Homo sapiens: one gene and its partner. The protein of the gene in region 1 purifies or fractionates together with the protein of each later gene. This does not show direct contact. Each region holds a gene or a part of one and is shown on either strand. Other genes may lie near its edges. The genes, in order: RRP36 and RRP12.

Region 1 (3,054 bases):
AGAGCAAGACTGCATCTCAAAAAAAAATGTGTGTGTGTGTATGTGTGTGAACTTCTTAGGATAATGCTTTACATAAAATTTCAGCTAACATTTGCAGAATGCTAACCATGATACTCATTTTCCAATGTGGAGCTTGTGAAAAAACAGTTGAAGAAGCACCTTTCAGGAGAGGAGCATGAGAAACTGCAGCAACTGCTTCAGCGAATGGTGAGTGGGTAATAATTGTGGTGGGTAATGAAAGCAATTAAAGGTGGGAGATATTCACAGATCTGAACAGATCCCTCCCGTTCACCCATCTCATCTTTGCTCCTCAGGAGCAGCAAGAAATGGCACAGCAGGAACGAAAGCAACAGCAGGAGCTGCACCTGGCCCTGAAGCAAGAACGTCGGGCTCAGGCCCAGCAGGGCCATCGGCCATACTTCCTGAAAAAATGTGAGTTGGGCACAACTGTTGCTAACAGGGACAGGGGTGCAGGGGCCATGGTGGTAGAGTCTTGTGTTGGGGTGTCCCTGATCCCCTTTAAGGAAGGCATGAAGGCTGGATCCCATGGTAACTTGGAGGAAAGTAGAAATAGTAGGGAGTTGTTTGTAACCAGTCTTGTATCCCTAATTAGATCATGGCAGGCATTGTCACCTTTATTTCTTGGTCTACACTCCCCACTTCCCAACCCCCCCCCCCCAACACACACACAGTGAGTTTTATCTCTTGGTCTACACTACACACACACACACACACACACACACACACACACACAAACACAGAGTCAGTTTTATCTCTTGGTCTACACACACACACACACACAATCAGTTTTATCTCTTGGTCTATACTACACACACACACAGAGTTTTATCTCTTGGTCTACACACACACACACACAATCAGTTTTGTTTCTTGGTCTACACTGCACACACACACATGCACACACGCTGGGCCAGGCACATAGGTGTTCATAGTTGGTTGAATTGAGTAGTACTGAGATCATATAAAAAGTCATCAGTTGGGCTGGGCACGGTGGCTCACGCCTATAATCCCAGCACTATGGGAGGCCAGTGTGGGGGGGTCACGAGGTCAGGAGTTCGAGACCAGCCTGGGGGCCAACATGGTGAAACCCTGTCTCTACTAAAGATATAAAAAAATTAGCCGGGCCTGGTGGCGTGCACCTGTAATCCAGCTACTCAGGAGGCTGAGGCAGGAGGATCACTTGAGCCCGGGAGGTGGAGGTTGCAGAAAGCCTAGATTGCACTGTTGTACTCCAGCCTGGGCAACAGCGTGAGACTCCATCTCACAGGAAAAACAAACAAACAAAAAAAAGTCACCAGTTGGGCCGGGCGCAGTGCCTCACACCTGTAATCCCAGCACTTTGGGAGGCCAAGGAGGGCAGATCACGAGGTCAGGAGTTCAAGACCAGCCTGGCAAACATGGTGAAACCCCGTCTCTACTAAAAATACAAAAATTAGCTGGGTGTGGTGCTGTGCATCTGTAATCCCAGCTACTCAGAAGGCTGAGGCAGGAGAATCGCTTGAATCTGGGAGGCGGAGGTTGCAGTGAGCTGAAATCGTGCCACAGCACTTCAGCCTGGGTGACAGAGTGAGACTCCATCTCAAAAAAAAAAAGTCACCCGTTGGCCAGGCGCAGTGGCTCACGCCTGTAATCCCAGCACTTTGGGAGGCTGAGGAGAGCGGATCACCTGAGGTCAGGAGTTCGAGACCAGCCTGGCCAACATGGCGTAACCCTGTTTCTACTAAAAATACAAAAAAATTAGCCATATGTGGTGGTGCGCGCCTGTAATCCCAGCTACTCCGGAGGCTGAGGCAGGAGAATCACTTGAATCTAGAAGACGGAGGTTGCAGTGAGCCGAGATCGCGTCACTGCACTCCAGCCTGGGTAACAGAGCAGGACTCCGTCTCAGAAAAAAGATAGAGGGGCACCAGTGAGCTTTAAAGAACTCATGTATCCAGCATAATGGCTTGGAGTTACTGACCTGGTTTGGGAAAGAATAGGGGCTTCCTTCTTTGTTCACCAACTTTCATTCTCCCTGTCATTTAGCTGAGCAGCGCCAGTTGGCACTAGCTGAGAAGTTCAAGGAGCTGAAACGCAGCAAGAAATTGGAGAACTTCTTGAGTCGAAAGAGGCGACGAAATGCAGGCAAGGACAGGAGACATCTCCCTTTGAGCAAAGAGTAATAAGGAACTATCCTCTGCTCTGCCACTGCCCCAGGGAGACATGGATCTGTGAGGACAGATTTGGCCACGGCTGGTTTCCGTTCAAGGGCAAGGATCACAGCTGCCCTTGAATCTCATTGCCTCAGAGAAGACTAGAGGGCTCTTGGACTATCCCTAGGGCTACACAAGAATAGTTCAGCCTTCTGCCATGCCACACAGCCTCAGCTTGAATCTGGTTCATTGCGTCCTCGTGTTCTTCTCTCATCCTTGCCTTAAACCAGGGATTCTGATACCGAAGAAGAGGGGCCAATGAAAACCATGGAGTCTGTTCGTGACTCCCAGGGCTGGGACATTATGTAGGAGCCACTTCATAAACATTCTCTTTACTCATCTTTTTATTCTGTTTTTTGTGGCCTTCTTTTTGTGTTTCCCCCCCGAAACAGAGTCTCGCTCTGTCACCCAGGCTAGAGTACAGTGGTGCAATCTCGCCTCACTGCAACCTCCACCTCCCAGGTTCAAGTGATTCTTGTGCCTCAGCCTCCCGAGTAGCTGACATCCGCCACCAAGCCCAGCTAATTTCTTTCGTATTTTTAGTAGAGATAGAGTTTTGCCATGTTGGCTAGTTTGATCTTAAACTCTTGGCCTCAAGTGATCTGCCTGCCTCAGACTCCCAAAGTGCTGGGATTACAGGCGTTGAGCCACCGTTCCGGCCTTAAGGCCTCTGCTTTTATGTGGGATTTGTGGGTAGCCTAGAACTACTTTTTAGTGGGCCACATATTGGGATAGGCAATAAAGCCTAAGGCATCTACAACTGGGAAGTCAGATCAGAAACCCCTCCCACTTAAATCTGGGCCCCTCAAGGATGACAAGATCATTTAGTGGGTGAACCAAT
Region 2 (3,815 bases), on another chromosome or scaffold:
CCTTTTCCCAGTTCCAGGAGCCACTTTATCCTGACCTTTTGGGCATCTTCCTAATCTGAGGGCTTCTCAGGCCTTCTAGGAAATAAGCATTTACCTTTAAACTCGAAAAGGAGGTGGGTCAGGGCCAGGATGCTGCAGCTGACCATGGTCACCGCGCCCACCAGGCCAGGGTAGATCAGGACGAGGTAGCACTGCAGGGCCTCTGGGGACAGAGACCAACGTGGGTCAAGCAGGAAGGACCCACCAGGTAGGGGGGCTGAGGGCCAGAGAGGAGCAGCCTGCCCAGGGCCAGGGCACAGAGCTCTCCCCACCTTTTTTGAGGGGTGCTTCCCCCCACCCAGTCTATGAGCAGAGTGTCCACCCCCAGCCCCCTGGGCCTCACCTTCCTGGTTCGAGCCAAACCTTAGGAAAGCATGGCCCATCTCCACGAGCAGTGCAAAAGCGTTCTTCCGTGCGCCCACCGACACCTCCTTGGTGCACAGGATCACCTGGCCAAGACAACTCCATCAGCATCTGCTCCCTGAGCCATCTGCCCGGGAAGCGAATCGAGTCCTCCCACTCCCATCACTGCCCTCCCTGGATCCTGAGGCCCTTAAGAGCCACATTCCAGGGACCCCCCTCTAAAACACACCCGCACACTCACCTCTGGGATGAGGGCAGTGATGAACTCCTTGTGTTCAGCTGAGAGCTTCCTCACGATGTGTAGGAGGCACTTCAAACGGGGCTGTGGGCAAAGGGCTACCAGTCAGGACCCCTCAATGCTACCTCCACCCAACAAGCCTCAACAGTGGCTCCTTTCCTGGTGTTGCCCAGGCTCCCTCGGCAGAGCGGGTGGCCCTAGAGCCCTCACCCTCTTGGCGGGTGAGGAGGTGCTCCGCAGCGAGTCCAGCAGTGTCTTCTTCAGGTCCTCCAGGTGGCTCTGCACGAAGAGGGCCCCGGGGCCCTGAGGACTGGCACACACCTCCTCCAGCACTCGGTAGGCCTTCTTCTGCACCCCGTGGGCCTTGCTCTGGCAGACAGGAACCGGTGAGGGAGGCCTGGGGCTCACTCCCTGTCCAATGCTATCCACGGAGCATCCCCCAGCACTGGAGGGATTCTGAGCAGGGGTCCGTGGGGGCTCATGTGGCTTGACAGAGGACCAGTGGAATGTGGACAGCGAGTGGCTAACTCCTGGGCGAGGCACAGGGGTTGGGGGTGTGTGCCGTGGGGCCCACCAATCCACTCCACTCACCCAGCTCTGGACAGTGCTCACTCCAGTGGCCTGAGCTCATGGTGCCTGGCACGCGCCAAGGCCTGCACATCTGCTGCTCTTTCTAGCCGGAGCACTCTTCTCTCTCCTTCCAAGACTGACAACTCCTTGCTCCTCCAAACCAGCTCTCTGTCACACTCCCCCAACCCCCAACGCCGGACACCTTTCCTGAGGTGACGTGGCCTGGCCCTGGATTTCCATGTCCACCTGCAGTGCTGCCCCAGAGCACTTCTCACACTGTTAGGTAACTGCTACTAAACTGTGGCAATGGGGGCAGCTTTCAGGGGGTCACTGCTGGGCTGAGATCTGCAGGGTTGCTGGCCACAGCAGAGGGCATTTCAAGCTGAGGACCCAAACCCTGCAAAGGCACAGACAGGGCCTGTTATATCAGGGAGGCTTAAGGCAGCTGAAGGAGGCTGCAGCAGAAGTAGAGAGTGGACTGGGTGGGATAAAGCTCAGGCCGGTCTGGGATGGGCCTGGGGAGTGAGCCAGGCAAAGGAGCATGGCCTTGGTTCTACAAGAGTCACTCAGCACGCAAGGCCTAAGCACAGCTGTGCATTTCAGTCCCTTTGGGACCTGCAAGACAGATGGGCTACACAGGACACAAAGAGAAGCCACTGCAGGAGAAAGCAGACAGGGACCTGATCTCGGGAAGCAGCAAGGGACAAAGACATGAAGACAGGCCCCACCTTCCCACAGCCCATCTGCCCCCAAGCGTGGCTGTGTGGCGCTCCTGGCCCCCGAGGCTCACCTCTAGGTAGGGCCGGATGGTGGAGTATAGCTTACTGATGGCAGCTTCGTCAGCACACGGAGCCAAGGCCACGACCAGGTCCAGGACAGACAATCTGCTCGGGGCAGGAGGACAAGGAGAGGGATGGGGAGCTGGAGAAGGGCGCAGACTACCAGTGTTCTTACGTCTACTGGGTATGGGGAGGTGGGAGAAGTCAGGGTGAGGACAAGGGGCTTGAAGGAGCTCATGAACAATAATAATAGCTAGTACCTAACTGAGCATTCATGATGTACCAGTCACCGTTCCTGGTGTTTTACACCTGCTAACTCCTTCAATCCTCATAGCAACCTTGTTGCAAGAACTATTATCGTGCCCATTTTACAGATGAGGCCTTAGAGGCAGAATGGATAAGTAATTTGTCCAAGGTCACACAGCCCATGAGTGACGGGGCTGGGATCAGAACCTGGGCAGTGTATCTCCTGGGTCCTTGTTCCTCCCTACCAGACTAAATGGCCTCTCCAGGAAGAAGGAACTAGTCAGCACAGCCTCTCAGCACAGCCTGGAGAGTTAATACTTCAAGGCTTCCTTAAATAATGCAAGAGGGAACCCACAGTGCTTCTGCCAGATGCACCCTCCAGCTCCCTGGGCTGCTCCAGCTCAAGTGGGAGGCCCTGAGCATGTTACCTGGTAAAGTCAGAGCTGGCAGGGTCGAGCACCTTCTCACTGGCTTTTTCCAGGAGACTGTTCACCAACTTGTGGCCCCGAGGGAATGAGGAGAAGAGAGTCATTGGGGAGGAGCGAAAGAAAGCAGCAATGGCAGCAGTCCCAGAGCGGCCTCCCCATCAGCCCCCAGCCCTGCCCAAGCCATGACTGCTGGTATGTGCTCCAAAACACAGAGACCCACGTGAGCCCTGGTGGGTAGGGTCTCGGCCTCTCTGACCCTGCCCACCTGAGAGCTCCCCTCCTCCCTCCTTCCCTCCCTTCCGTGGCTCACCTGAGTGTCAGTGATGGTGAGGTAAGTTCTGATGGTTTCCAGCACAGCCCGGCGAGGGGCTGGAGTGTCCCCGGCTGCCACGGGCTGCCCATACAGGTTGAAGAGGATCGGCAGAAAGTTCTTGGCAAAGCGACTCACTTCAGCACGGTCAGCCTCTGGTAAAAGGATCAAAGTTTGCACTAAAGGCACAGGAGCTGACTGTGCCTCAGTGGCTGCTGGGGCTGTGGCCCAGAGGCCCTCTCTTGGGGGAGCTGGCAGGACTTGGAATCCATGGGTTTGGGGCTCTCTGTGGCAGAAGCTGAGCCAGGGCATGGAGAGCCTGGTGCCCCAGTGGCCCATGGTCCTCGATGGCTCCAACCCCAGGGAGCCAGCAAAGTTATCCCCTGGGGTCTGCAGCAGAAGCAGCAAAGGATGAGCTCCAGAGGTGAGTTTCTGTGGCTCTGCCTGGCAAGGAGTGTAGCAAGCCAGGGGATGGGGCCAGGGACCTGTGTCATCCTCCCCAGCCCCCACTCCCACAGCCCACACGTACCTGCCTGGCAGCCCTTGGTGATGAGGGTGCGCAGGGCCTGGCACACGGTGACCCTCAGGTCTGGACGCTCGCTGATGGCCATGCCCAGCGTCCGTGCCAGCCCTTTGAAGGAGATGGCCACATCTGTAGGCCTTGTGCAGAACCCAGGCAGGAGTGTCCACATCTGGAGAAGGAGGGGACAATAAAGGAAGGTGACACGCAGCCACCTGTGCCCCTGTGTGCTTCTCCCCACGCCCTCCCCCAGCTGACCCTTACCTGCCACTGGAGTGTGTCGTAGATCTTAGATTCCACTGTGCTGCCTGCCTGAGCCAGG

What was found.
Region 2: the proteins of RRP36 (region 1) and RRP12 fractionate together in Homo sapiens (co-fractionation; one large-scale study listed by BioGRID). This does not show direct contact.

Annotation. Positions count from the first base shown.
Region 1 is NC_000006.12:43,027,046-43,030,099, forward strand, and holds the end of RRP36 (ribosomal RNA processing protein 36 homolog), read left to right. Parts: intron 1-84; exon of another isoform or gene 85-132; coding exon 133-207; intron 208-314; coding exon 315-432; intron 433-2,046; coding exon 2,047-2,183; 3' UTR 2,184-2,554; downstream 2,555-3,054. UniProt on the Homo sapiens protein: Involved in the early processing steps of the pre-rRNA in the maturation pathway leading to the 18S rRNA.
Region 2 is NC_000010.11:97,370,073-97,373,887, forward strand, and holds part of RRP12 (RRP12-like protein), read right to left. Parts: coding exon 3,758-3,815; intron 3,666-3,757; coding exon 3,503-3,665; intron 3,129-3,502; coding exon 2,974-3,128; intron 2,732-2,973; coding exon 2,664-2,731; intron 2,095-2,663; coding exon 2,001-2,094; intron 1,010-2,000; coding exon 851-1,009; intron 725-850; coding exon 644-724; intron 489-643; coding exon 383-488; intron 203-382; coding exon 95-202; intron 1-94.